7 linked regions of the Homo sapiens genome follow. The protein of the gene in region 2 purifies or fractionates together with the protein of the main gene of each other region. This does not show direct contact. Each region holds a gene or a part of one and is shown on either strand. Other genes may lie near its edges.

Region 1 (4,272 bases), on a different chromosome or scaffold from region 2:
ATTTAACTCACTTCTAACCTTCTAACAAAATGTCCGTCCCATATTTACCAGTGAGAAAACAATAGATGCATATATATAATAGGTAAAAAGAAATCATATACATAATACTTTATCAAAATTAAAAGCAGAGGAAACTTTATCTGACCAAGTATCTTTTTATAGCTTTATGAAATTTTTAAAAACCAACATACAAAATAATGATAAAATGTATTAACTATAGTAGTTTAATATAATAGCTAAAGAGACACTGATATTAAACACCATATAATTCTATTTTACATTAGGATGCAAGGTTTTAATTTCCTTTTTTCTTATTTTATCAAAAGTGAAGGAAAATCCTTAATAGATTATATTTTGGTTGTTCAAGAAAGTCTGTTATAATTTTATCCTTGCCAAAACATTTGACACAAAGTCAAATACCTAAGGGAGTAAATGATGCCGAAGAGATTTAATTCACTAGAATACACAAAATTAACAGTACAAGTAGTCATTTTTATAATTCATTCAACAAATATTTGAGTGCTACTATGTGTTGGGTAACTCTTCTAGGGTCTATGGTAGACTAGTGAACACTGTCCTTGAAAACTTAACTAGTAGAACATAACGTAAGGTTTTTCTCTTTTTTGATAGTCATTTATTTTTTTTATAAGATTGAACACTTAGAAGTATGACCAATGACAGATTAAATTCAGAATAATCATTTTTTACATATGAGACTTTCATGCACTAGAGATTAAATAAGCCCTGACATCAAAAGCAATAAAAACTCAATAAAAGGACCAAAACATTAGAGCAGATAGAAAAGACAGCAAGAAACACTTTAAGAAAATGCTTCCTAATAAGTTTATTTTCTATTTGTTTGAAAATACAATGAAGCAAACTGTGTAAATTCAGTTAAATTACTCAAGAAAATTAAAGCTGGAAATATAATCAATAAACATTTCTAGTAAACCATGTACACAGTAAACACATTCCTCACTTCACTGAACAGCAGAGGCAACCGTTTCTAAGTTCCAGCCACTCTTCATAGAGCTCTCCACCTTGGCTGACAGCTAAGGATTTCTCCAGCGCACTTCCTAGAATAATTAACAAACAGCACTCTTTAGCTTATGTCCATTAGCCAAAAAAAAACAAAGATGAGGATAACTCAATAATGGAGATCTTAAAGCAGAAACTGCATTTTATAACTTATATTCTTTCATTTTATTCATGCAGCCTCGATATCTAAATTACAGTACACTACATTATTTTAGCTTTTATTTAAGATGACTTAAGCCCTGAAAAAGACACATCCTAAACTGATAAACATACCTACTTCCTCCTTAGGCCTCTTACTTGGCCACCCCCATTTCTTAATAAAGTAGCTATCTTGAAGGCATTTTTTTCTTGTCCAGGGTAAACTTTCTAAATAGACCAGTATGTTTTATATACTGGATTTTGTATGCCCTTCAACCTCTTAAGAGACTGCCTTATCTATCTTTTTCTTTTCATTCTTCTTCTAAATTGTTTCTGTTAGACAAACTGCTGAATATTCCCAATGAGTAAAAACCCTAGTTCATCTTGAGGAAGGTTTTTGGCCAGTGTACCACGTGCTCATTTAAAAATTAAACTTATAGGGAGGCCAAGGCGGGCGGATCACGAGGTCAGGAGACCGAGACCATCCTCGCTAACACAATGAAACCTCATCTCTACTAAAATTACAAAAAATTAGCCAGGTGTGGTAGCGGGTGCCTGTAGTCCCAGCTACTCAGGCGGCTGAGGCAGGAGAATGGCGTGAACCCGGGAGGCGGAGGTTGCAGTGACCCGAGACTGCGCCACTGCACTCCAGCCTGGGCAACACAGCGAGACTCCATCTCAAAAAAAAAAAAAAACCTAAACTTTTAGTCAAATTCACATATTTTCCTAGCAATACTTACTTAAGAAAGAATAAACTACATTTGAAATGCTTGTTATCTATAAGAATTATTTTAAATGTTTTACTTTTCCTCTAATAAAGAAATATACCAAACAGTGAAGTTCTAAAAGCCCACTAAGCAAATGAGCTCCCATAAAATCGAGTAGTTTTACACTTACATATTTTTTATATTTCAGCTAGGTATTAATAAAGAGCTTCTAAAGAGGTTGCTACAGAATTTGGACTATATACAGAACATTAATGAAACATGAAGAAAAGTATTGAGAATGCTGTGAAAAATAAAATTGCAAAAATGATCCAGGAAAAAATAAAGAAAATAGTAAGAATAAATGTAATCAGTGTGCAATAGGTTATTTAATAAGATGATGAAAAAAACAGTCTGTTATTAGAAATCTCAGGATTTTTGCCTAAAAAGCACTTTTCTCTTTCGTTTATTAAAACCAGAAATCGAATATAACTGGCTTCCCATCCTGTTCATAAAACCTAGCTCTTTTACTTTTTACAACTGAAAAAAAATAGTACATTTTAAAAGAAATCGTTTAATAGATATTGTTTTTTGGCTAGAAGTAAGCTTTGATTACAATTCATACTTATGAAGAAAAACTTCTATAAAGATAACAGAAGTATTGTGTCTAGAGCTATTTTTTTGACTACAGTTTAATATTTCAGTTGAGAAGTTAAGCACACTTATTTTCACAGATAACTTAAAATACATGAGGATAAAGACCATATGTTTACCTTTATTTTTAAAATATTGAGTTTTAACTGCATTGCAGATAATAAACATTAAACAAAGTTAACTAATAACAGAAGCATTTTCAAGTATTTTTCATGAGTTGCAATAGAGTCCATACAAAAGTGCTTTCCTAATTCCTAAAAAAAACATTTTTTCGCCAGGCATGGTGCCTCATGCCTGTAATCCCAGCAACTTTGGGAGGCCGAGGCGGGTGGATCACAAGGCCAGGAGCTCAAGACCATCCTGGCCAACATGGCGAAACCCTGTCTCTACTAAAAATACAAAAATTATCTGGGCATGGTGGCGCACGCCTGTAGTCCCAGCTACTCAGGAGGCTGAGGCAGGAGAATCACTTTAACCCAGGAGACAGAGGTGGCAGTGAGCTGAGATTGCACCACTGCACTCCAGCCTGGCGACAGAGAGAGACTCCATCTCAAAAAAAATAAAATAAAATAAAAAATAAACGTTTTTTCATATGTCTAGATTTTTACTTCTGGAGTCATTTATTTCATGTAAAAATGTAGTTTAATTCTGTTAATAAGAATTCCAAAGTTATACAAAATAAAATTTTATTAAAACTAATTTCAGTATCTCAACCCATATAAATCTTAACAGAAATTAATCCAACTTTTCTAAAGCTATCCACATCAATACAATACCTTGCATTTTCATTTTTAAATATGGAATATCAATTCACCAGAGGAATAAACAGTCACACAAAATCTTGCAACATGACATTTATTGAACTTTACTTACCTTCCCCAAATTCATTTAAAATGACCGCTACTCTTTTACTATGTTGCTCTGTCAAAATATAGTTCAGAAGTGTTGTCTTCCCAGCACCTATAAAACATATTTTTTGTAAATAAAAAAATTCAAAATAATTTTAAAGATACAAAAAACATATAAAGAATCCTAACGTTTTTGAGAATTTGCGTGCTATTTTTCATATATTATTTTAGCATAGAATATCCTAGAGGATAAGATTAAAGCATCCTTCGAAACCTGTTGCAAAATACTTTATGTAGACATAAAATTTTATAAATATTTACAAACACTCCTACAAGTTGAAACAGCTTCTTCAACCTAGCCTAACCTTCCCTAAAATTTACACACAATCTTTTATTTATAATGACCTTTTATTTCAACATTAACAAGACGCAACTTCAGGCTGACTATATGGCTACTTATAGTATGCTTTAAACAATCTATAAAAGTTTTTATGAAATGGGGAATAGAGCCAGGTAGTGTCAACAATGGACAGAATGTTCAGTAAGATAAATTCATAAAGCTATACCAACTTTATCCAGCAGGTGGCATATAAAACCCAATATGTCAATCTCCAGTAGAAAAAAAATAGTCTTGTGAACCGTACACACTAAAATTCATAGAGGAAAAAAAGAAAATCCTAACTGCATAGTATTGTAGTTCAATTGTATGACTATATCATTTCTTTATCTTTTTTTTTTGTTGGACATTTGGTTTGTTTCCAGTGTTTTACTATTACAGTGCTGCTAAAAACTTTTACATGTAGGCTATACATGTCTTCTGAAATACATTAAGTTTTCTAGTATATAACTAGATCTTCCTATAACTAGGAAGATTTTACGGAGTATTAGGG
Region 2 (4,949 bases):
AGGCCAGGCTCAGTGGCTCACACCTGAAATCCCAGCACTTTGGGAGGCTGAGGCAGGTGGATCATCTGAGGTCAGAAGTTCGAGACCAGCCTAACCAATATGGTGAAACCCTGTCTCTATTAAAAATACAAAAATTAGCCAGGCGTGGTGGTGGGCGCCTGTAGTCTCAGCTACTCGGGAGGCTGAGGCAGGAGAATCACTTGAACTCGGGAGGCAGAGGTTGCAGTGAGCCGAGGTCATACCATTGCACTCCAGCCTGGGCAACAAGAGCGAAACTCTGTCTCGAAAAAAAAAATACATATATATATATATATACAAATGAAGATGTCAAGAAGGTTGCAGAATATACAGGTCTGTATCATGGGCCCAAGATTACTCAGCTCTTAGGAGGTGCGTTCAGGATTCTAGCCTAGATTATATCTGATTCCAAAGCTGGCACTCTTGGATACTGACCCGTGAGTACTGACTCTCCAAGGAACTTAGAGTCTAATGAAAGGTGAGAAGATTCCTCAGAGTAGGGGAAGGGGAGGATGATGGAGGCTGGAGGAATGTTCCTGTCTAGTTCCAAGCAGGGGCCATGGATAGGAATTCCTTTGTGGAATTCATCATTTCAGAACAACGGGATAGGATGATGACATCACAAGGGGATGGGGACTCTTGTCGTCTCAGAGAGAACGTGCCAGCCTGGCTCTGCTTTCTTTTCCTAGAGGGTCTAACACCTCTCCCGGCCCTGACATCTAGCTGGTTCCTGAGGAGGAGGCAGAAGTCATGAGGAGGCAATGGGGAAACAGCCATGGCAGCCAGTGCCTGCCTGTGGATGCTTGGACATTAAAGGGTCACCAGCTGAGTGTGGGCTGAGTGTCCCTGAACACAACATTTGTGCTTAGGAAGAACCCATTCCAGAGCTGAGAGAGAAGGATGCCAACATGCTGCTTCCTCCCTCTTTCTGGGGGCATTTCTTCTGCCCCTCCAATCCCATCTCTGAGAGCTGGTCCCAGGTCCAGCCCAAGCAGGAGAGGCAGCCCTCACCTTCCCAGGTGTTTGTAGGCATGTTACTCTCCCTCCTAGAGAGTGTTCCCCGCAGCTCCGCCTTCCCTGCAGGCCTCCTCCATCCTCTAAAGCACAAATCATCACCACCTGCACAACTCGAATGTCTTTCTCAGCCATGCCTGATTCCTCTGCAGGAAGGAAAAAGGAAGCAGTTCCTGGTAGTGTATGGAGGGACCCACAGAAAAGCCAAGAGCCCACAGCAGATATTGCTTGTTTTTTACCTCTAACTACTCTGGAGTGCAAGAAAGGGCATCCATTGTAAAGTCCAACTCTTACCAAGTGGGTGAGGCTATAGACATCTTGTCTCTTTCTTCAGCTGTGCAGCTCAGACAGGCCCAGATGTTGAGCTCATGCAGGAGCTAGACCCATACCTGCGCATCATGTGGATGAGGCCTTTGTCTAGCCTATGTGTCTGAGGCTCCTAGATAGGCAAAGGCCATGAAGTTGGGGAGAACCTGTGAGATGGGATGAAACTCAGGAAGGAGTATAAGGCTGTGGGTGTCAAGCCCCCCAGCCCCAGCAAAGCTAAATACTTCCAGCAGCAACTTCCTAGCTTGAAGCAACCTTGTCTGTTCAATTTTATAATCACAAAGGAAAAAGTGTCCCAGTCCCCTGGCCTTTCCTCTCATCACAATCCCCTTCCTCTGACATCACAGAGGCAAGAACTGTCTTCTCTGCTCGGAGCACTGAGTCGAGGGCATCTCCAGGACAGGCATTCAGGCAGAGCAAGCTCCAGGTTTCACCACAATGCCCATCCCTGCCTCCCCACTCCACCCACCTCTGCCTTCCTTACTGCTGTATCTGCTGCTTGAACTGGCAGGTGAGTGGGGCCTCAGTGTATGTGTGTGGTGGGTTCTCCCCTCTGCCTGTTTAGTGAACTCTCCCTCACCTGTTCCCATAGAATTTCTTTTGGGAGGGTTTTCTCCATCTTATCCCAGAACAGGCAGAACTCAGAAGACTACACTGGGATGGTCCCCAATTCTGACAAAGTCTCCCGGTGGCCATGTCTGTTGCAAATCTCTTTGCTCAGGTAAACGACTCACACCTATGGTCACAGGGCGGGGCACAGCATCCATCACAGCTCTCACCCTCCAGCCTCTGGAGGGTGTAATTTATTTTATTTTATTTTTACCTTTACTTATTTTTTTGAGACAGGGTCTCACTCTGTCACCTAGGCTGGAGTGCAGTGGTGCGATCTTGGCTCACTACAACTTCCACCTCCTGGGCTCAAGTGATTCTCGTGCCTCCAACTCCCAAGTAGCTGGGACTACAAGCACGCGCCACCATGCCCAGCTAATTTTTGTCTTTTTTGTAGAGATGGGGTTTCACCATGTTGCCCAGGCTGGTCTCAAACTTATGAGCTCAAGAGTTCCACCTGCCTCGGCCTCCCAAAGTGCTCGCATTATAGGCGTGAGCCACCACACCTGGCCCCTGGCAGATTTTACACTTCTTTCTGTGAAATTCAGTTTTTTATTTCTCTGTTGCCACTGCATTTGGCTGCTCTTAAAAAGTACTGCAAACTGGGTGGTTTAAATTACAGAAATTAATTTTCTCACAGGTCTGGAGACTAGATATTCAAAATCGAAGTGTGGGCAGGGTTGGTTCTTTCTGAGGACTGTGAGGTTGAATCTGTTCCATGTCTGTCTCTGAGCTTCTAGCAGTGGTAGCCTCAAACATTTGTTGGATGGCAGGTGGCACCACCCTCCCTGTATCCTCACATCATCTTACTCCCATGTATGTCTGTCTCTGTGTCCAAATTTCCACTTCCTATAAAAACATCCACCATATTGGATTAGCACCCACCTCAATGACCTCATTTTAACTTGATTTCCTCTGTAACTCTATTTCCAAGTAAGGTCACATTCTGAGCTACTTGTGGTTAAGACTTCAACATATATTTCGGAGGCATACAATTCAACTCATAATAGCCTCAACATGAAATTTTAATAACTTAGATATATTCTTTGTTGGTTTATGTACTGCATTTATATCTGTCTGTGCTTTATACATAGGAAGGGTAACTATAAAGCTTCCTCTTTTTATTCAATGGAGAGTTAAGGATGACTAAAAATATTTAGGTAAAAGCTAACTTAAGATACTTAAAGCTAGTAAAACTCACTTGAATTTTTAACTGTACTTATTGGGTGAGGTACACAGACTGTAAGGTGACTCCCAACTATCCCACCCTTATGTAATCTCAGTTGTGTGTGACATGCTTCTATCTGATAGAATATGGCCAAAGTGATGCACTGTCTCCCCCTTGAGTATGTTAGGTTGTGTAAGATCTATCACACTAGAGTTTTTTTGCAACTTCTGGCCTTAAAGAAGCAAGGAGCCATGTTGCAAACTGCCTGTGAGAAGGCCCACATGGCAATGAACTGAGGGAAGCCCCTAGAAGTTGAGGGCCTCAGTCCTACAACCACAAAGACCTGAATTCTGCCAACAACCTGAGTGAACTTAGAATGAACACTTCCCCAGTCAAACCCCCAGATGAGAACACAGCCCAGCTGGCACCTTGAGTGGAGCTTGGTGAGACCTTGAAGCAGAGAACCCAGCTAAGCTATATCTGAATTACAAATGGACAAAAATTGTGAAATAATTAATATGTGTTGTATTCAGCCTCTAAGTTTGTCGTAATTTGTTATTCAGCGATAGAAAAGGAATATACCGAGTAAGATGGCAAAACCATTCAAAATAAAGTCCTCCATTGTTTTGTAGAACTTATTTGTTTTTAAAGGTGTACAACTTGATGGTTTTTTAAATTTTATCTTGGTTTTAATTGACAAATAATAATTGTATATATTTATGTGGTATAATGTGATGTTCTTATACATGTCTACACAGTGAAATGATCAAATCAGGCTAATTAACATATCCATCACCTCACATACTTATCACTTCTTTGTGGTAAGAACATTTAAAATCTACTCTTTTAGCTAGTTTGAAGTATGCATTAACTATAGTCACCATGCTGTGCAATAGATCACCAGAACCTATTCCTCATGTCTAACTACAACTTTATAGGCTTTGACCAGCATCTCCCATTTCCTTGTCCAACTCTCCACCACCCCAGACCCTGGTAACAACATTCTATTCTTTACTTCTTTGAGTTTGACTTTTTTGGATTCCACATATAAGCGACATTCCACATATAAGCAAGATCATGTGGTATTTGTCTTTCTGTGCCTGGCTTATTTCACACCATAATATCCATGGTGTCATAAGTGACAGAATTTTCTGATTTTCAAAAGCTAAATAGTATTCTACTGCATGTTTGTGTGTGTGTATGTGTGTGTATAATCACATTTTTATTCCTTTATACATTGATGGGCACTTCAGTTGTTTCTATATTTTGGCTATTGTGAATAACTGCAATTTTGTAGAACTTATCTTGTAGACATTTTGTGTATCTGCCATGAACTCAATGTCAGTGTGGCTTGTGTGCTACCCAAGAATACACAAGAGCAATTAAGTACTAAGGAATAAGATTTTGTTTGGTAGAATTGATCATTGACAAACCAACCATTGTAATATCTAAGATAATCCTACACTCCAAAAACCAGTTGTGACCTTTTATGGAAAATAGCAACTTCATTGAGAATGCATGCCTCAGTGTTTACTCTGGGAGAGGTGAATGAGTGGCCTTTCACACCACAGAACACCCGGTATGGGAGGGAGCTGCCTCCATATGCAGGTCACTCCATATGCAGTATGTTGGTTATCAACATACTGTCCTTAGCTTGGGGCAGTATCCCTGATTTTGAGACAATTAGAAAAATCTGACCCAAATTCTATTTTGCATTTTCTCATTTAATAAAAATATACTCATATATTTATTTAAAATATGTTTATTTAGTGCCTAATATATTGCAGGCCATCCTCATATCCCGATGCAGAAG
Region 3 (4,272 bases), on a different chromosome or scaffold from region 2:
TCTAGTTTGGTCAGATGGCTGCTTTCCCCTTGGGAGCCTCACAAAAATGAGACTATCCCCAGAGGTAAAGAAATGTCCATTTAAAAGCCCACTGGTATAGCTGGGCATGGTGGCTCACACTTGTAATCCCAGTGCTCTAGAAGGCCAAGGTAGGGCATCACTTGAGGCCAGGAATTTAAGATCAGCCTGGGCAATGTTGCAAGCAAGACCCTGTCTCTTTAAAAAAAAAAAAAAAAATTAAATTAGCCAGGCATGGTGGTGCACACCCATGGTCCTAGCTACTTGGGAGGCTGAGGTGGGAGGATCACTTGAGCCCAGGAGTTGGAGGTTGCAATGAGCTATGATCACACCACTATACTCCAGCGTGGGCAACAGAGTGAGACCCTCTTAAAAAGGGCCAGGCACAGTGGCTCACGCCTGTAATCCCAGCACTTTGGAAGGCCGAGGCCGGCAGATCTCGAGGCCAGGAGTTTGAGACCAGCCTGGCCAATATGGTGAAATCCCATCTCTACTAAAAATACAAAAATTAGCCAGGCGTGGTGGCAGGCGCCTGTAGTCCCAGCTACTCGGAAGGCTGAGGCAGAAGAATCACTTGAACCTGGGAGGCAGAGGTTGCAGTGAGCCGAGATTGTGCCACTGCACTCCAGCCTGGGCAACAGAGCAAGATGCTGTCTCAAAAAAAAAAAAAAAAAAAAAAATCCACTGGCGAGTGAGGCATGGTGGTACATGCATGTAATCCCAGCTACTCAGGAGGTTGAGGTGGAAGGATTGCTTGATCCCAGGAGTTCAAGACTAGCCTGGGCAACATAGCAAGACCCCATCTCAAAAAAAAAAAAAAAAGTCCATTGGCATTAGCTTTCCTCACCAGAACTTTAGGATGTATCTCAGATTATTCTTCCAGTTTCTAGATCTCTTTCCCATCACAAGACTGAAGAAGCAAACTACTTGCAGAGATGGAAGTAGCCAGATGTGGAGATGAGTTCACTGACCACTTTGATGTTTTTCTGCCAGTGATGATAAGTGGTAACCAAAAGGGATGATCAAGAACTTCCTCAGTCACAACATAGCCTATGAGCAGACCTCAGAAACATACCCTTCCCCATTTCTCTGTAGATGTGAAATGTGAAATGTGACAAGGGCCAAACATCAGACTCTTCCCAAAGGTTCCGATGTCCAGTCTGGGGACACCTGGGCCAACACAGCAGCCCCAGCTGTGAAGATGGAAGGTCCAAGAGGCACCAGAGAAGCAGATGATAAATGGACCACCTCAAAATCCAAAGACTGGAAGAAAATTAAAACAATAAAGAATAAACTTGGCTGGGTGTGGTGGTTCACACTTAATAATCCCAGTACTTTGGGAGACCGAGGCAGGAGAAATGCTTGAGCCCAGAAGTTCAAGACCAGCCTGAGCAACACAGTGAGACTGTCTCTACCAAAAAAAAAAAAAATTAGCCAGATGTGGTGGCACATGCCTGTAGTACCAGCTACTCAGGAGGCTGAGGCAGGAGAATCACTTGAACCCAGGAGGCAGAGGTTGCAGTGAGCCAAGATCACGCCATTGCACTCCAGCCTGGGCAACAAGAGCGAAACTCAGTCTCAAAAAAAAAAAAAAAAAAAAAAAAAAAACAGGAAAGGAAACGAAAAAGCTTGTGGTACTAGCTGTTTCTTCTGGATAAAAAACTGGCCTTGATGACTACATTAAAGAAAGAATATCAGATAAGACCATGCATTCTCAGTGAGTGCAGTAACAGCCCAGAAGGGGTGAAAATTGATTCTTGGGGGAAAAAAAGTTAGATATTACAATGGTTTGTGGCCATCCAAAGGGCCACAATACAAAAACAGATACACAGTACATCTGTGGTATTAAAATTCCATTGGGGGTAGCTGGGCACGATGGCTCATGCCTGTAATCCCAGCACTTTGGGAGACTGAGGTGGGCAGATCACTTAAGGCCAGGAGTTCAAGACCAGCCTGGCCAACATGGCAAAACACAAAAACTACTACTAAATAACACAAAAATTAGTTGGGCATGGTGGTGGGCGCCTATAATCCCAGTTACTCAGGAGGCTGAAGCACAAGAATCACTTGAACCCAGGAGGCAGAGGCCACAGTGAGCAGAGATCACACCACTGCACTCCAGCCTGGGCGACAGAGTGAGACTCCCTCTCAAAAAAACATTCCACTGGGGAGTAGACAATTAAGGGAAAAAAAGTCTCAAAATATGATAATGAACAAAAGGTTGAAAAATAATTAGATGAACCCAAAGGGTTGAGTCTTAGATGAACCCTAAGGGCACAGTGTTCATTAACTTGTATAATGGTCATGGGTAGGGTAACTAACTTGTCCTGGTTTGCCCCGGACTTTCCTGCTTTTGGCACTAAAAGTCCCACATACGGATATCCCTCTGTCCTGGGAAAACTGGCATGGTGGTCCACTCTTCTCAAGAGAGAGATCAATGAAGGCATTCCCATTTCACAAATGAGGTGACACCAAGAAACACAGTGGTTGTCACGGATTCACAGCACTTTAGCAGCATTCCTGAGGCAAGGCTGGCTCTTTCCATTTGTCTAGTCCTATGCTCACAACTCTCTGCCCCTGATTTCCACTTTGGCAGAGAATGTTACTCATGAATTGATTATGCCACTTCCTTCTCAATACCAAAGCCAAGGGCAGTATTAGGAGGATGAAGGCAAACATGGCCAGCCAGCATAATCACAGCCATGTCTTACAGCTGCCTGGTGGAACCTGAAGGAACTACAAGTCTGGGCTGAATATAGTTTTGTTGCTACTGGATTCTGGGTACAAATTTGCAAAAGTAAGAATGCCAGGTGTAAACTCCTCACAAGCTAGGAAAATTCCTAGCTTGAGGTTCTCCACATGTGTCTGAGCAGCCCGAATCTTTTACAAGGTTTTTGTCCCAAAGATGAACTCAGTTATTGCTTATGCTAGGAATCAGGGGTTACCCAAGGCCTCACTCTGAATGGCAACAGGCTATTCTCCTACTCCCCTACTCAGCAGTGAAATCCTTGGTGAAAGTAAAGGAAGAAAAGAAAAGGGCATGCTATTCCGTCTTTAGTCTACGTATAATTAAAATACAAGACTCTCTGCTGTAGAAGACTAAGGTTTGCAGTTTAAGGCCGACTCAGAAAAGGATAAAGTATTCATCCTTGCTCAGAAAGAGAGAAGATTAGCTCCACAGGATGGGTCTCCAAATTGACACCAAATCCAGGAGTTAGAGATGGCTGTGCTACAGAGCGTGATCCAAGCACCATCTGGAGCCCCCAGAAAAAAATCCCTAGGAATAGCGACTAAGGGACTAGCATTGTAAGAGAGTTCAGATTAGCTCTCCTGAAAAGAGGCTTACTACAAGAGACTGGCAGACAGCCTCTGCAGCAAAACTTCACTTAGGAAAGGACAGAAAATGAATGAAGAAAGACAGGGGGAGGCTGAGCAGGTCAGAGTATGAATCCACAAGTATGTGAAAAAGAGAATCCACCTATTTCGAAAAAGGTACAACTTCCTTTCAGAGCCTTTTTTTTTTTTTTTGAGACAGAATCTCTCGCTCTATCACCCAGGCTGGAGTGCAATGGCACAATGATCTCGGCTCATTGCAACCTCCGCCTCCCGAGTTCAAGTGATTCTCCTGCCTCAGCCTCCCGAGTAGCTGGGATTACAGGCATGCGCCACCACGCCCGGCTAATTTTGCATTTTTAGTAGAGACGGGGTTTCTCCATGTTGGTCAGGCTGGTCTTGAACTCCCGACCTCAGGTGATCCACCCACCTCAGCCTCCCAAAGTGCTGGGATTACAGGTGTGAGCCACCGCACCCGGCCAGAGACTCTCATGTTCTTTTGAATATTCTCATTAACGGCAAATCTTCATTCTTTGAGGGTGAAAACATTTATTGCATTCCTATGTCCCAAGAGCTTTCATGTGTAATACGTCATTTAACCACCCTTCAAAGTAAATATTATTCCCAGTTTTTTTTGTTTTGTTTTGTTTTGTTTTGAGACGGAGTCTCGCTCTGTCGCCCAGGCTGGAGTGAATGGCGTGATCTCCGCTCACTGCAAGCTCCGCTTCCCAGGTTCACGCCATTCTCCTGCCTCAGCCTCCTGAGTAGCTGGGACTACAGGCACCCACCACCTCGCCCGGGTAATTTTTTGTATTTTTAGTAGAGACGGGGTTTCACCGTGTTAGCCAGGATGGTCTCGATCTCCTGACCTCGTGATCCGCCCACCTTGGCCTCCCAAAGTGCTGGGATTACAGGCGTGAG
Region 4 (4,272 bases), on a different chromosome or scaffold from region 2:
AAATATATCTATTAGCTTTCCTAAAACTCCAGTTGCATAAGTCACTGTTGTAGAATACACAGAAGGAAAACTTAAAAGACATAGTCTACCCATGTGTTTGGGGGGTATCTGAGTGCTGGCAACATCTGTTGCTATTAAGACTCTAGACATATATGTAGCTATTACAGGGGAGAAAAGTCTTAGGATGCAGGACTTAAAATAACATGTGTTGATTCAGTATCCTTAAAACACTTCAATGAGAATCAGCATTGAAGTTTCCAAGGGACTAGCAAATCCACATGATTGACGAAAGACAAACAGGGAAAAGGAACAATAGGTGTATAACTATTAGTCACCTAACTTAAAATAAAGGCAATTTAAGTTAAAGAGTCTGGACTTCAGATAATTGCTATATTAGGCAGGACAGAATCCCACACTCTTACCGCAATATAGTAAAATAGTAATAGTAATAGAGGCACCATTTGCAATGGGGCACGTATCTCCCTCAAATGGAACAAAGAAAAGGTGACAAAATGAATGTTTTCATCTTTAGAATTCCAAAGAAATATTTAAAAAGAGGTAAAATGTGGAGTAAAGTATGTTGGATGGATAACAATGTAGTAGGAATTTACTGAACTCAGATTATGAAAAAAAGAACAATTTTGCTTGGAATAAGGACTTCTATGCTCTTTCATAATTATCTGAGCATTTTGCTGATGTGAAGCAATATTATCTTGCCAAAATCCAAATCTGTGTATGCTCAGGATCTTCCAGCAGTTGATTCTATTATGGAGATAATTTCCTTTTCTTTGTAAAATCAGGCTGAAATCATAGTTTCAAAGGGTCATGTTCTGCATATTTTGTTTCTGGAATATATCAGCAGCATATTGATTCATTACAATGGGGAACAATTCATTCTTTTTCACAAGCATGGTAAACAGGAAAATAGAATGAATTTGTTGACATTTACGGAGGGAAAGTATTTGATCATGAGCAACAGACGTCAAGAAATTTGCAAAAATAAATAAAAGCACTAGCTATTCTTTGTGTTGATCACACAAGGGGCAGTTTATAAAAATTCATCAAGCTATACATTTAATCTAATGTGTACATATCGGTACATACTTTATATTTCAATGAAAAGTTTAAAATAAATAAATAATAAATTCTGGAAAAAATAATTTGTCCAATTCTGATCCCATGTTAGAGATCAAACTACTATGAATCGTCAGTGAGAAATGAACAAACTCCTGGAGATTGGCTCCAGGACCTCTGGATGGTATCAATATCCACAGATGCTCAAGTCCCTTATATAGAATGGCATAGTATTTGCATATAACCTATGCACATCCTCTCACGTACTTTAAGTCGTCTCTACATTATGTATAATACTCAATACAATGCAAATGTATGTAAATAGTTGTCATACTGTATTGTGTCTCATTTGTATTATTTTGTATTGTATTGTCATTGTGTTTTTTTCTGAATATTATCTACCCGAGGTTGGTTAAATCCACAGATGAGGAACTCAAGGATTTGGAGGATCAATTGTATTCCTAAAAGTGTTATTTACTAGAACTAATATTTTTCTCTCATTATTATTCTCATAGCAGGGAAGAGTTTTCTCCAATCTCTATCATTAGAAGATATTAGTTGCTCTGTGATGTTAAAGGAAAAAACCACATATTGGCAGAAATAAAGTGTGGAAGGAGCACTGTTACTTAAGTATTTATGTAAGTTATTGATCTTAGAATAATTTTCAATGTTTTTAATAACGTCTATGAATTTAGTTGAATTATTTAATGAATAATCATTCATGTATCTAACATCAAGTTCTAAACATACATGCTTATTTAATTAAAATATTTTAAAATTTGAACTGTATAATCTGTCTCAAGTATTTTGCCTTCTCATTATTCCAAAAAAAATCCAATTTCTTTCTTCTACTTCCAGCAATGTATGCTTCTGAGAAAATCTGATAACTGAAGTACAATTATGGCAGATCACCTGAGGTGATCACCTGAGGTCAGGAGTTTGAGACAACCCTGGGCAACGTGGTAAAACTCTGTCTCTACTAAAAATACAAAAATTAGCTGGGTGTGGCAGCTCACACCTGTAGTCCTAGCTACTCAGAAGGCTGAAGCAGGAGAATTGCTTGACCTGGGAGGCGAAGGTTGCAGTGAGCCGAGATTGCGCCACTGCACTCCAGCCTGGGGAACAAAGCAAGACTCTGTCTCAAAAATAAATAAATATAATAAAATAAAAATTGGATCATAAACATTGCTATAAAAATAAGTGGAATCATGACTAAAAAACATAAGCATTTACTTCATTTCTGAACTCAATCTAAGTACGATAATAATGGATAAAGTATTTAGACAGCCAACTAAAATTATGTAATATATGTCTTTAAAATGCCACTTAAGCAAGTTTAAATTTTTTCCTTAATAATTTTGAATATAATGATATTCTAAAAGCAATACTGAGTATTTTTTATTACCTGGTTTTCATAACATGTGTAAAGAATAATGGAAATTTCACAAGTACATTAAATCTACTTTCCCAGCTTCTTAGTAAATATGCATTTTCTACAAAAGGAATAATATGGAATAATGTAAAATGTTCATTGGGGAAAGTCAGCCTAGAATGACTCAAAAAGGTTTTAGGATGAAAATTACATGTGTGAAGGAGTAAATTAACTTTAGGTTTCCCCAAGTCATCTGATTGGTAATATGACTACATTATCTGATAGGTAATACAATTTCACACACTTCAAACCTTTTCGGCCACTTTTCTTCTGCCCTTATCTGCTTAACCTCTAGAAATTATCATTGGTATTGGTTCCTCACCTGCTGATTTCTGGCAAACGAAATTTTAAATATAAAACAACCCCTGCAAACTGCTCCGCCAAGTAAAGTAATTCATACTTTGTGTCAAGGTTCAAGGGAAGGCACACTGAAACAACCTGGAATAAAAGAAACCAAATAAACAACAAGAAAATCAAAATGCACAGGTTATTGCTTAATGTTTGTGTGAGGTCATGCATTTTTGTTTGGTTACTAATGTATCATCTGTAATACACTAAAATAATTAAGAATATTTTTGGTAATAATAAATACATATCTTCCATTTCCTTGTATAGTCTATCTATCAGTATAACCTCCAAGAATACATGTGTTTTAAAGCCTCGTTCAATGTGCATGGCTTTCGATCTTTGTCTTTAATACTTCCTTTGCAAATTTTCGTCCTAAACACAAACTCTTTCTTCAAGAACCAATATATATTTCTTTAATTAACAGTCAGGTATATTATCTCCCATGAATTATGTCTGAAAATTATTTTTATTTGAAGTCAGAAATAGGTGTAAGAATTAATGTACCAATAAACAGCACCTCATTCATTCACTCATTCATTTATTAAGCAAAAGTTTTCTGAGCAAGAATGTGCTATCTAGATAGTAAAGGGAATACTGGAAAACATGAAGGAAATAAATATAAATTCAGATCTCATAGTCTCCAAGGAATTTACAAGAACATTATTTAAAGTCATCACATATGGTATCAAGTATTTTTTTTCTACGAGTGAAAACAAACATTAAAATGAAAAGCTTTTAACATACAAATTATTGAACACATATGAGGATATTTTGAGGAGAATTACGTACATAGCACTATATTAAATATAGGCCCAGAAATAACATTTTATTTCCCCTTAAAACTTTAATAAATCTATTTCAAGGCAGACGGTGATATGTAACTACACCAAATACAGAAATAATAAAGGACTAAATTACAAAATAGATGTTCACACAGCATGGCATTTCAATTAAGTAGTAACGTACCAAAATTACAACAAATGCCAACTAGCTTATTACCAAGTAGGTTGCATATTATTGAATGTGACATTTTTCTGGACATATACAGCTTTGTTTTGGCAACAGCTATAGAGGTATGTATGTATACTTAGTTAAATCATTATTTAGGCATTTTTTATGGTCTGCCTCATAATAATATATAATTTTACCTTCACTTGTCAAAAAAAGATGCAGGAAAAAAAGAGCTCAGATGGTGACATTTATTTCAATGAAGTAAAAATGAGCACCTACCCCCAATATTCAATTCCTGGGTCAATTATGCATTAAATCTAAGTAATTAAAAGCAAGTTTGAGAGACACAGATTAAGAAATCAACCTCTCTGAATTATGATATACTTAAACCCCACTAAATCCTAGAAATGGTTAAAAGGGTACATTAAAACTGCACTTGTACCCTCTGAAATTTTATGAGCACTTTA
Region 5 (4,272 bases), on a different chromosome or scaffold from region 2:
CAAACTACTTCAGTATTTTTTGTGTTTTTATTTTTTCACAAATCAGGTAGCCCCCCAAAAACCAGAACAGGTTCAGGGAGACTCCCTACTTCAGTATGTTTTACCAGAGTAAAAAAAAGGTTTAGAAAACATTCCATCATACAAAAAAAAAAAGAAAAAAAGCAACTCTACCATACAGTAATGATCACCATCCTCAGCTGATCAGCTGACTTTTCCTTTCTTCCTTATTTTTATTTGAATGTTTTCGGTGAACAAACCCAAGTCCCGTCTGCTCACCTAAACAGCACACCTTTGATGACCTGCCAGGCATTGGGTGCCGGCTGGGCCGGTGGGTTCTGAGGCTGGGTCTCCGCTGGCGGGTCCCTCCCGATGCTGCCATTGCTGGTCACCTGTGGGGGACAGAGGCCAGGGTAAGGAGGGAGAATGGACACGGGGGCTGTCTTAGACACCATCATGCATGAAGGCCAGGCACAGGCTGGGCAAAGAGTGGGTGCTTATCAATAACTGGAGAATGAATCAGTGAAAACACCTGGGAAGGTGCGGTCCTCTTCTTTTAGGAGGAAAACACTCGCAGAGCACCTCTGTGACCTAGGGACAGTGGTGACCTAGAGAGTCTTTTGCTGTCCTCCTGGGGTTTAACAGCCCGGTGGGGGAGAAAGATTCATCTCTAGACAGTGACTGTCCAGAACGGGGCAGGAATGCAGGAGCCCTGAGAGGCACCTGGTCCAGTCTAGGGTTCGGGGCAACTTCCTGGAGAAGGGGGCATTGAAGCTGAGACCTAAAACATAGCAAGTTGGTGGCACAAAGGAGGAAGTGAGAGAAGCAGCAGGTGCAGAAACAGAAGATTAGAGGCACAGTCTGATTCTGATGACTGTCCACTGTTCCCTGGGGCTGGAGCCAGGATGCAAGGAGGTGGCTATTGGGGACAACAACAGAAGGAGTCTTATGGCAGGTGCCAGATTCTTCAAGGCTGGGGCTTAGCTGAAAGAGCCTTCCCTGGGCAAACCATTCCTGAGGCCCCCTCTGTGGCCAACCCTGCCCTCCAAGGGCCCCTGGTCCAGCAGGTGGGACAGACACAGAAAAACACAACCAGACTATCAGCTGCTACCATAAGCCACGGCCACAAGACATGTCTGTGACAGCACACAGCACACTAATCCTGAGGCCAAAACTATGACCAGCTCCATCCGGCTGCTGAGCAAAGGGAGGCTCAGAGAGGTGAAGCCACTTGTCTGGTCACTCAGGAAGGACCGCAGAAGCAGAATGACAGAAGGGAAGGGGGGCAGGCAAGGGAGCCAGGCACGGCTTCCCAGAGGAGGACTCTTCACTCAGACACAGAAGGTCACAATCAGAGACTCTCTGAATGCCAGGTTTGGAAGGGGATGTTCTGCTCACCCTTCACGCACCCTGCTAGCTCCCCAGTCCTGTTCTCATTCACCCCTCCTCCCAGCTGTCCCCTCAGCCATCAGCCTTCAAGAGGCAGGACCAGGGCTATCACAGTCACAGTTAGCTCAAGAGCACCAGTGGCACAGAGCAAGGCTGTGATAAACACCTGTGTGGCCACCGCTGCCTGAAGGACTCACCCCGGACGCTCAGGTCACCCAAACCCACTTCCCTCTGAGGCTCCAGTGTCTGGCCCTCTCCTCCACAGCCCCTAGTCCACTCCTCTGCAATGTTTTCTCCATTCACCTTACCCACCAGATAGCAAATGTCCCAGGAGCATGGTTAGAGGGGCTACATGTGTTAAATGTGTCACTTGTCACCTCCTGTCCCCTTCACCAGCAAGAGCTCTTTCCTGTAATCTCCCAAAGCACAGGACACCATTGGAGGGGCTCCAGGGTCAAACAGACCTCAGCTATAGTCCTGGTCCCACCGTTCTTGGCTGTGACACCTTGGGCACATCACTTCACCTCTCTGACCTGTGGACCAGGTTGTGAAAATACTGGAACATTTTAGACAGAAATCTGGGCCCTGCTTACCCAGAGCTGGGGATCTAGAAGGAAACACACTAGAACGGTAAACAGGATAATTAAAAATGGTACATGGAAAACAAGCAGGGGGAAGTGACAGCAACTGAGTTGGGAACAGGGATCCACTTTGGAGTGGGTGGTCAGAGAGGCCTCCCTGAGGAGCTCCCTTTGACGTCTGGGTCGTCTGGGTGAGACCCTTAGGCTGAGACAGAGAAAGCCACATTCTGATGAGGAGATCTATGGGGCGGGGGTCGGCTGGGGAAGGGAAATCAGACAGGCACAAGGCCCCCTCCTCAAGGCCAGCCTAGCTATTGGGAAATTTAGGGGTCCAAGTATGGGTTTCAATGGGTCTGAGCTGATTTGGGGTCAGGAAAGGACACTTGATGCCAGGTCAGGATTTGAAGCTGCATCTGACTGACTCCCAGGTCTCTTCGCTTACCCGTTAGTGATGGGCAATCTGGCTGGGAACCTTCCCACGGAAAGGCAAGTTAAAACCACAATGAGGTGTCACTTCACACCTATTAGGATGGCTATCAGCAGAAAGACAATCACAAGTGCTGGCAGGGATGTGGAAAAACAGGAACCCTCGTATGCTGCTAGGGGGGAAAGTAAAAGTACAGCTACTTCGGAAAATATGGCAGTTATTGAACAAGTCATATGTGCACCTACTACACAATCCAGCAAACCCATCCTGAATGGCTACCCAGGAGGCAGAAAACATGAAGCCAGACCAGGCGCAGTGGCTCACGCCTATAATCCCAGAACTTCAGGAGGCCAAGGCAGGAAGACTGCTTGAGCCCAGGAGTTCAAGACCAGCCTGGGCAACACAGCAAGACCTCATCTCTATAAAAATACAAAAATTAGCCAGGTGTGGTAGTGCATGCCTGTGGTCCCAGCTACTCAGGAGGCTGAGACGGGAGGATCAATTGAGCCTTGGAGAATGAGGCTACAGTGAACCAGGATCACACCACTGCACTCCAGCCTAGGCGACAGAGCATGACTCTGTCTCAAAAACAAACAGTGGCCAGGTGTGGTGGCTCATGCCTATAATCCTAGCACTTTGGGAGGCCAAGGCAGGAGGATCCATTGAGCCCAGGAGTTCGAGACCAGCCTGAGCAACACAGGGAGACCCTGTCTCTCTTACTTAGAAAAAAAAAAAAAGAAACAAAATACAGCCACAGAAAAGCCTGTACATGAATGTTCATAGCAGCATTATTGGCAACAGACAAAAACTAAAAACAATCCAAATATCCTTCAAGGACTGAAAGAATAAACTGTGTCATGTCTGCAGACTACCACTGAGCAGTGAAAAGGAACAACTGTGAGCACGTACTTTAGGATTTCCCCAAAGGCCAAATTTCCCTGATCCTAGGTTGTAAAAAATAAAATAAAAATGAACAACTGCAGATCTATGTAACAACATGAACCTCAAACCCATTATGCCCAATGAAAGAAGCTGGACACAAAAGACTGGATGTTGTTTAGATCCTTGTTTAAGACATTTTTAGAAAATTACAGAGATAGCACCTCTGTGGCTGCCTAGGATTGGGAGCAGCAGAGACTGTAAAAGGGAACTTTTTGAGGGGACAGAAGCTTTCTCAGACCAGACTGTGGTGATGGCTGCACCACACAACTGCATAAATGGACCAGGAGCCAATGGACTCTATCCTAAGAACAGGTGAACGTTATACCATCTAAATTATACCACAAGGCTGGACGTGGTGGCTCACGCCTGAAATCCCAGCACTTTGGGAGGCCGAGGTGGGCAGATCACCTGAGGTCAGGAGTTCAAGACCAGCCTGGCCAACCTGGTGAAACCCTGTCTCTACTAAAAATACAAAAATTAGCTGGGTGTGGTGGCAGGTGCTTGTAATCCCAGCTACTTGAGAGGCTGAGGTAGAAGAATTGCCTGAACCCAGGAGACGGAGGTTGCAGTGAGCCGAGATTGTGGTGAGAAAGCGAGACTCCGTCTCAGAAAAAAGAAAAAAAAAAAAAGAGTCACTCTTTTCAGCTCCTATTTCCCTCAGAGTAAAGGCCAAGTCCTCCCCATGGCCTCCAAAGCTTGGCATAATCTGCATCTGTCCCCAGCCACCCCTCTCCCCTCACCCGCTCCAGCCTCCTCGCCCTTCCTTCATCACACCAGGCACCTCCCACTTTAGGGCCTTCGCACTGGCTGCTCCTTTGCCTGAAAAGCTTTTCCCTCGTGTATCTTTGGGACTCCCTCTCTCACTTCCTTCAGGTCTTTGTTCAAGCGTCACCTCCTCAGAGAGGCCTTCTAGACTACCCTATTTAATTGCAACTC
Region 6 (4,272 bases), on a different chromosome or scaffold from region 2:
GCCAGTGCTGGGTCGGACGCGCCCCCATGCTTGTGGATCGTGTAGCACCTTTGAAACGGGTGCTTTTGCCATTCAAACTGCCCTGGGAATTGGCTGGGTGTCTGTGGTGTCGGCTAAAGACCCTGAAACGTCCATTTTTGGGTGGGAGCTGAGGCTGGCTCAGCCCTGAGCGGTGCTGAGCTGTGACGCCCAGAACATGGGGCCACCCCCGTCCCAGAGGGGTCTTGTGGGTACGATAAACAGACAGCTTCCCTGTGTGGCCGGCAGGGAGTGGAGGTGTCACGTGGCGTCTCTGGACGCCTGTGCTTGGGGGAGAGGTCCTTCGTGGAGGGCTGTGTTGGTCTCTAGAAAATTCTGTGGGTAGACACCAGGAGGCATGAGGTCCTGGGAGGCACCTGTGGGCCGTGTGACCTCCATGGTCTGTGTGGCCTCGGACTCGGGTGTACAGACTTCTATCCTGAATGGGAATCCACATTTTTGTGTTCTATGTTCTTGGCCTAGATTACTTTTCATCTCTCTCTGAAATCTCTCCCAGGTAGACTGGTCATTTACAGAGTGAGTGTAGGACCGTCTGCCTGGAGTCCTGACTGCCCCGAGTCCCAGCTGGCCCATGAGCTCAGACTGCCCCTTGGGCCTCAGCACCCGCAGGGCTGGACGCTGATGTAAACTCAGCTGTGCTGTGGTTGGTTGCACGCTGGATAAAACTTTAACCACGGCGGCCTTTATCTTGGTCACCAACAGTTATGGTGGGTGGGAGACCTGGGGGAGGGGGTACCAGCCTTGCTCTGGGGGCCCTGGAGAAAAACTCACAATGAGGCGAAACCTGGAGAAATCCAAGCTCCAAGTTCAGTCTTTCTAACCGGAGGTAGAAGGTGCCGGGCCAGATGTTAGGAACTTGCAAACATTCTTTCTGCTGATTAAAGTGGTGATTGGTCTTGAAGACGTTGGGCTGCGGGTCACATGCTCTGTGGCCTGAGCTTTGTTCTGCTTCTGGGTGAGATTCTTAGAGAGGCTGTGGTGTAGTCCGTCCCTGCCACGCACACCTGGACGTCCACACTGGCACAGGCCCGATTTCTACATTTCCAGGGGAAATTCAATGGTTCTAGTTGTCAGCTGGGGCGACCCTTACGGAGCCTGTGCCCTCACCTTTGGGAACAGAGACTTTGTCTCTCCTGCCTCTGGGGGTGGGGTCCGAGGCCTACAGGCCCTGTGTAGGCTGGGGCGGTGGGTGGGTTTGGGAGAGGCATGGGATGGTAGGGGCTGAGCTGCCTTGGGGTCCTGTGGGGTTGCAGGGAGGCAGCGGCCTCTTGTGAGGAGTGACTTGAGCCCCAAGGGACCAGAGCAGGCATTCGGCGGTGGGTCCTCGCTCACCCTCCGTGTGCCTCCTGGGCCTGTGGGGTCCTGCGCAGGTCTGTGGCCCCAGTACACGTCAGGCTGGCTTGGGGTCCCAGAACTTTGCTGTGTCCTGTGAGGCAGGTGCTTGGGTTTCCTTGTTTACACTTGGTGACCCTGCGGCATCTGCTTAAACCGAGCCTGAGGTGATTTCCAGTGCCCTGTGGGTGGTGGGTTGCTTATCCGAGGAAGCAGACATGCAGGGATCCTCGGAACTGACAGGGGCCCAGACTCTGAGGTTCACCGGGGGCCCCCGGAGCTGGGACCCACGCCTGGCATCTCACGGGAACGGGCACAGATGCAGGCCCCTCCCTGGGCTGAGCACCTCCAGGGCCCTCACGAGAGGCCTCTCCTATCCTGATGGGGTGGAGGGGCAGGAGGGATCCGAGGAGGCTGATACCTCTCCTCTCCCCAGGGTATTCGCCTTTCATCAGGGGACGGGGGCCCCTAAGCCTTTAATGCTGCAGGAATGGGTACATAATGTGGAATGTCGGTGCCGGCCGTCTGGCAGCAGTGACGCCATCCCCTGGGCCAGGCCGGCTCCCCAGCACTCTCCGGCCAGCGCCGCGGTTTCCCTTGCCTCCCGTTCCTGCACTTGCTGTAGCTGCGAGAGCCGACGGAGGCTGAGCCGGGCAGCGCCAGCCCCGCCGAGCCTGAGGTGAGCCTGAGCCTTTGGCCTGGCAGCACGACCCACGGGAGGTGGACGAGCTCGTCTGTGTGTCAGAAGTTCCAGTTTGTGCTGACTCAGGAGGACAGAGGCTCCGTGGGCTGGAACCCCGGACAGGAGAGGGTGTGTGAGCCCCGTCCCCTGCCCAGCCAGGAGGAAATCCCCCGCTCCGGTGGGTTTCGTTGGTGTGATCGTGGTGCGTTCATGCTGCATAATCGGCTTCCTTGAGTAAACTGAGACACGCCGATGACCAAGAGTTGGCCGGAACACGGGGGCAGGCTGCTCCTCCAGGGGTACACACTGGGGGCCAGGCGGGAGGGGACCCGGCCCCAGGACCTTGGGATTTGGCTGACTACGGGCAGGACCTCTCAGCCCTGCACCAGCCGCCTCTGCAGGCGACACGGACGCCTTCCTTGGATGCTGAGGAAACCCCGCAGGATGGGGGTGGCAGAGAGTGGTCAGGTGCAGCTTCCGGCCGTGCCCAGACCTGTGCCCAGCAGACCTGGCTGAGGCCGTGTGGGGCTGCTGTTTGCAGGCCAGGGAATCCGGGAAACGGGCACCGTTCAGTGGCTTGGGGAATGTGGGTGGGGGCTGTCTGGTTCTGGGGTACACAGACCCGAGACAGTCCAGGCAGGTCCCAGGATTCCAGTCTGTTCTTCAGCTTCTCCCAGGGCTGTGTGTCAGATGCTCCTGGCTTGGCCACATCTGTGCTTGGGGTTTGGGGTGCAGGCTCTGTGTAAGGCCCCCCAATGCAGGCCCCAGTGAGCAGGTGCCCAGGGCCGGGCAGCAGCATCGTGGACACAGGCAGTGGGAGGGGAGGGGATGCTGCCTTGATGCTGATCATGAGCACGTGGTGCCGTCCCTGGCTCTCCAGGACGCCGGAGTCCTGCAGCGTCTCAGGGGCCTCAACGCCTCCCCCCTTTAAAATCCTGCCCCTGGCTGAGCCCGTAGGTGAATGACCAGCTCGGCGGGCGCAGAGCCCCTGCCGATGAGCCCCCTCCAGGAGCCTCAGAGTTTGGAGAAGTCCTTGATGGGTGGGAGGGATGGGTGGAAAAGTGTGGAAGATAATTCTCATTATTTCCTGGAAGTAGAGGAGAGGGGCTGATTTTTCCAAGGCGTCCCATCTCTCGTCCATCTTTGGCTTCCTGCTTGGTGCCTTCTCTCCGGCCACTGTAATTTTCATTTTAACCATCTCTGGGCTTGTGGAGAGGAAGGGTGTGGCCCCCGCCAGCTTCCTCACCAGGAAGAGGGAGGGAGAAAGGGAGGCAGGGGGAAGGGCAGGGGCTATGGGGCCAACACCCCCGGGGCACCCCAGCAATGGACTGCAGCCTGGAGTGCGGCCGCAGCGCGACGGTGATGATGGTGGCCTTGAGGGGAGCCTTGGGAGCTCAGCCTTGGGTCCTCGAGCCCACTGGAGCCCACCCTCCACCCCTACCCACTGCTCCCTGTTCTTGGCTCCTCTGAAAGCACCTTATCCCCGTCACCGGCTCCTCTAAAAGCAGCGTGTCCCCCCGCTACCCCGTCACCACCTGTGTGGGAGACCCAGTAATCGTGGCCACAGAGGTTTCCCGTCGGAACTGTGTGAGTCCCTCTGGCTGTCCTTACCTGGGCAGTCCTGCCGGACCGGTCGGTGTCTGTCATTCTCAGCCTCTCCTCGGAACCAGCCGGTCCTGCCTCTCTACTTAACACCTGCCGTGCAATCTAAGTCCCCGCAGCAGCGTCCCCAACCCCACCCTGCCGGTCCCTCCCACCCTGTTCATGCTAGCTCCTGAGAGACCTGCCTGAGATGTCCACACCCCAGCCCTCCCCCTCCGAGGAGGATGGACCAGGATTCCAACCCTTTGCCGACCCTCCCCACCGCCCTGGAGACGAGGTGCAATGTGTCCGTGAGCAGCGCGTTCCGCAGCCTTTATGAGCCTGGCTCCTGTTAATAATTGTCTCCCGATTGTCTCCCGGCGTCCACCGGCGTCCACCCTGCATTCTCCGTGAAGGTGACTTCTGCTTTGTAAAGCTCAGAATCAGAACAGGGAGGTCTCCAGGGTGCTCCTTACGAGCTCAGCTGTCGTTGGGTCGTCTCCAGAGGCTTCTAGCAGGCGAGGCTGCAGGCACTGACCGTCCCCGGCCCCACACCCCTGCCGTCAGCCGGGTGAGCCAGGGCGGGGTACCCAGGGCACGTGAGGGCAGCGTCTCCATCCTCCCCCTCGGCCGTCCGC
Region 7 (3,829 bases), on a different chromosome or scaffold from region 2:
TCAACAGGGACCATGGAGGAGCTGAAAGTCTTAAAATTGGAAAAGGGTCAACACACTTCTAGTTAAAAGAAAAAAAATAAAATTTAGATGTGTAGTCTTTACTACTGCACCTTACAGGCTTGGCTAAGTCATTTCCAGTCTGCACCAAGGCTCCGTTTCCAGCAGCCCCAGCTGGTATTTCTACATGGCACCCTGTGTGACTGCCACCTGTGGCTCCATTCCTCAGTAGCACACAGGTTGCTTTCCATCCAGCCTGGCTTTGGGGTATAGCTGTATTAGCAGGTAAACTGCTAAAGCATTTTAATACCAGTGGGTAAATAGCTGTTTCTAGTACCCCCAGCCCCTGTGCCATAGCCCAAGGCATCCCCCCTTGTCTCCAAGCCATCATTTAGAAATGAAAGGGCCAAAGGGGCACTGCATGCTGTGTTGCTGCTGGTAAGCTCCCACAGGTGGCCCCCAGAGCCCTCCCCCAGGCTGCCCGAGTCCCTGCTGTCTTCCCTCTGTGCCCCTGCTGTCTTCCCTCTGTGCCCCGCTTCTCTCCTTTTCTGTCTTCCTCTCACCATACAACTTCCTCAGACTGAAGGCTGGTAAAGGTTGGCCAGTGTTAGAACATGCAGTGGTGAGTTGGACACAGACTGTTCCTGAGAATGGTGACTGTGACCAGAAGGAAGGCAGCACAGTGGGTGCCATGTGAATCTGCGGTCAGCCTGACCTGGGGCCTCTGAGCCAGCACTGCCCAGCCAGGTTCCTCAAGTATAATGGAGTAACCCAACATATCCCAAAGTGTTAGCCAGGTACCTGACAGAGTCAGTATTCAATAAATGGTAGCAATTACTGCTTTTTATGAGGCCTTTTAGGATAGTGGCAGAGGGAAAACGCTTACTGGATGAATCCAAACAGGCTTTCAAGTTGTTTTCGATCAAGGACCCTCCATGATTGCCATGGGAACACACAGAACTCCATTAGACTGCAGGAAGTTCCAGCAATGAGAAGGCAAACCCCGTCTTAACCTGTCAGCTCCACAGAGTAAGGCAAGGATAAGGTGGTTTACTTTGGTGTGAGAAAATCCTAATAAATACACCTTGTGTGTAAAAAAAACCACAAAACAAGGCTTTTGAAAAAAGCATCATTTATTTCAAAGTACAACACAAAGTTGTATTTTTAAGAAATACACATTCAATCTTGTATCTCAAGACTTGGCTATGTGCATTTCAGTTCATCTTTAAAATAAGTTCAGGTATACAAATGTTACATACCTCAAGTACAAACAGCACAGAAAATGCATATGGTCTCAACTGAATGTTTTTACATTCATTCACCGTTCTTAAGTTGACTTACATTTCTGTAATCTGCTTTTAAACCAAGACAGCCTTACTTTAAAAAAATACTCTATTTTCAGCACAAAGTCCTCATACAGTTTTAAAATTAGATCTTGGCGCATAATATTGAGAAATTATTAAAAACCAAACTTGGTAATTTAACAAAATTGTCACATGCCAGGATTTCTGAATCAACTCAAATTATTTCCTTAGCTGTAATGTCAAATCTGTGTTCATACAGATAAATAAAGCATGGGGAAGACAGGTGGTGAAAACGCAGTAACGGGAAAGGTTCTCAGATGTACAGGTCTTATTAGAGTTTGTGGCTGAGTCCAGACTTTTCTCTAAAAGCACAACAGCAAATCTCATGTTATCATAATTGCAAGAAAGATCTGAAAGAAGCGAGTGGTCTGAGCCTGCCCTGCTTGGGTCTGTTTTGCAAAGAAGAGGAGGGTGGGGAGGGGAGCTGCAGTAAGAGCCTTAAAAAGATGTCTCAGAAACTGGCACATCATGATCTAGACGAGGGCCCACTATGTTTGTTTGTTTTTTGCTTAATTTAATTCTCGTGAGGAAAGTGCGAATTAGACCAAGGGTCCGAGCTTCTTCTTCCAATCGTGGGGCTCCATATCCGCCACGGGTTGTAGGTCTGTCCCAAGTCGTCAGCTGGACTGGAGGTGGAGGGAGCGTGAGGAGCAGGGGAGTTTTCTGTGCCCATGAGGCCGATGCTTGCCAGCGTGTTTGCTGGAGTGGTGAAGGGAAGGGCGCTGCTAAGGTTGCTGGACCAAATGGAGCTGCTGAATGGAGTGGTGGACCACAGGCCGCTGGTGTTACCGAGGACCGACTGCGACAAAACAGAAAGCGTCCAGCACTGAGCCCGGCAGGCAGAGGGTCAAGTGGGTAAGGGGGTAAGGCTACAGAAAAGATGAGGCTGGGGCACGCATTCCTCTTACTTTGTTTACTTTAGAACAAATGTTATATATATGTATTTGAGCAGATGTTTCTGATTTTTTTGAGACAGGGTCTTGCTCCATCACTCAGGCTGGAGTGCAGTGGTGTGATCATGCCTCACTGCAGCCTCAAACTCCTGGGCTCAAGTGATCTTCCCACCTCAGCCTCCCAAAGTGCTGGGATTACAGGCACTAGCCATCATGCCGGCTAGTTGTGATATTTTAAAAAAGACAGCTTGTGGACCAAATCCAGCTCTGCCTACTTTTGTAAAGAGAGTTGTATTGGAACACAGCTGCGCCCATCGGCCTGTGCACTGCAATGGCAGTGGTGAAGCATGGCCTTCAGAGCCTCAAATAGTTACTATCTGACTCTTTATAGAAAGTTTGCTGACTCCCACTTTGGGAGGCCGACGTGGGCGGATCACGAGGTCAGGAGATCGAGATCATCCTGGCTAACATGGTGAAACCCCGTCTCTACTAAAAATACAAAAAATTAGCCGGGTGTGGTGGTGGGCGCCTCTAGTCCCAGCTACTCAGGAGGCTGAGGCAGGAGAATGGCATGAACCCAGGAGGCGGAGCTTGCAGTGAGCCGAGATTGTGCCACTGCACTCCAGCCTGGGCTACAGAGCAAGACTCTGTCTCAAAAAAAAAAAAAAAAAGTTTGCTGACTTCTCTTTTAAAGAATGGTTAAGGTGGTTTTAAAACATAAGGCTGAATAATTACACATGAAGACAACCTTTGGAATCTGTAAAGTTGAAATATCTGTTATAAAACCTTGCATGTTTAGTTTCTCTGAGAACAAAGAGGCAAACACAGTGGGGTCATATTTTTCTGTCATAATTTTGTGGAAGCCAAAACCACTAATTATTTTCCTTGGCAAGAATACTCTTTTCAGCATGGTCTTTGCAGAAGACTTTAGCCAAGAAGCAAACAAATGCACTCTTGAAAATCTAACCTAAGAGACAGGTGCTTCTCAGCAACAAAGTAAATGCAGTATCTAGCTTGCTCCTGGGTGGCCAGTGGCTGCATTGCACAGATGCCGAAGGCTTCCCTCAACCATCTGAACCTGCCATAGGCCTATGGTCACCCTTGTGGTCCATTTACAGGTTGGGAAGAGGCAGAAAATGCCCTTGAGCTATTAGGAGGGACTCCAGAGACCAACCCCATAGCTGTTCAGTTGTTCTTCCTAAAACTTCCTGATTGTAATGGCTCTGAAGAACATCGATCAGTCATTTTGACAGAATATGAAGACAAAGCAATGGAGACAATAAAAGTACTAACCCACCCCTCTGATGCTGCTGTTTGTTGTTTATAACTATGTCAGTGCCATCCATGTCACAGCAATGGCAGATGGCGAGTGGGTGGGCCAGGTCCAGGCCCCAGCCCCAGCCCCAAGTACTCACTGTGGCTGTGTGGGTCGGGGAGCCGGAACTGGCTGGCCAGGAAGGACTGGGATCTGTCGCTGGCGACTCCCAAAGGTATGAAGGGCCACTATTAAACTCGTTCCAGCTCCTCTGTGAGGCCTGATTGCACGATCGAGATAATCCGAGTTTGCTGAAAACT

Evidence for each region.
Region 1: the proteins of SIRPD (region 2) and ZNG1A purify together in Homo sapiens (affinity purification with mass spectrometry; one large-scale study listed by BioGRID and IntAct). This does not show direct contact.
Region 3: the proteins of SIRPD (region 2) and SIL1 purify together in Homo sapiens (affinity purification with mass spectrometry; one large-scale study listed by BioGRID and IntAct). This does not show direct contact.
Region 4: the proteins of SIRPD (region 2) and PROS1 purify together in Homo sapiens (affinity purification with mass spectrometry; one large-scale study listed by BioGRID and IntAct). This does not show direct contact.
Region 5: the proteins of SIRPD (region 2) and CLPTM1 purify together in Homo sapiens (affinity purification with mass spectrometry; one large-scale study listed by BioGRID and IntAct). This does not show direct contact.
Region 6: the proteins of SIRPD (region 2) and METRNL purify together in Homo sapiens (affinity purification with mass spectrometry; one large-scale study listed by BioGRID and IntAct). This does not show direct contact.
Region 7: the proteins of SIRPD (region 2) and TMEM131 purify together in Homo sapiens (affinity purification with mass spectrometry; one large-scale study listed by BioGRID and IntAct). This does not show direct contact.

The regions. Positions count from the first base shown.
Region 1 is NC_000009.12:172,291-176,562, forward strand, and holds part of ZNG1A (zinc-regulated GTPase metalloprotein activator 1A), read right to left. Parts: intron 3,495-4,272; coding exon 3,408-3,494; intron 1,077-3,407; coding exon 980-1,076; coding exon of another isoform or gene 976-979; exon of another isoform or gene 199-975; intron 1-198. UniProt on the Homo sapiens protein: Zinc chaperone that directly transfers zinc cofactor to target metalloproteins, thereby activating them.
Region 2 is NC_000020.11:1,554,502-1,559,450, reverse strand, and holds the start of SIRPD (signal-regulatory protein delta isoform 1 precursor), read left to right. Parts: upstream 1-1,745; 5' UTR 1,746-1,797; coding exon 1,798-1,870; intron 1,871-4,949.
Region 3 is NC_000005.10:139,191,400-139,195,671, forward strand, and holds part of SIL1 (nucleotide exchange factor SIL1 precursor), read right to left. Parts: intron 1-4,272.
Region 4 is NC_000003.12:93,893,748-93,898,019, forward strand, and holds part of PROS1 (vitamin K-dependent protein S isoform 2 preproprotein), read right to left. Parts: intron 2,945-4,272; coding exon 2,829-2,944; intron 1-2,828. UniProt on the Homo sapiens protein: Anticoagulant plasma protein; it is a cofactor to activated protein C in the degradation of coagulation factors Va and VIIIa. It helps to prevent coagulation and stimulating fibrinolysis.
Region 5 is NC_000019.10:44,958,080-44,962,351, reverse strand, and holds part of CLPTM1 (putative lipid scramblase CLPTM1), read right to left. Parts: intron 390-4,272; coding exon 277-389; intron 1-276. UniProt on the Homo sapiens protein: Involved in GABAergic but not glutamatergic transmission. Binds and traps GABAA receptors in the endoplasmic reticulum (ER).
Region 6 is NC_000017.11:83,085,736-83,090,007, forward strand, and holds part of METRNL (meteorin-like protein isoform 1 precursor), read left to right. Parts: intron 1-4,272. UniProt on the Homo sapiens protein: Hormone induced following exercise or cold exposure that promotes energy expenditure. Induced either in the skeletal muscle after exercise or in adipose tissue following cold exposure and is present in the circulation.
Region 7 is NC_000002.12:97,755,224-97,759,052, forward strand, and holds the end of TMEM131 (transmembrane protein 131 precursor), read right to left. Parts: coding exon 3,670-3,829; intron 2,161-3,669; coding exon 1,876-2,160; 3' UTR 1,113-1,875; downstream 1-1,112.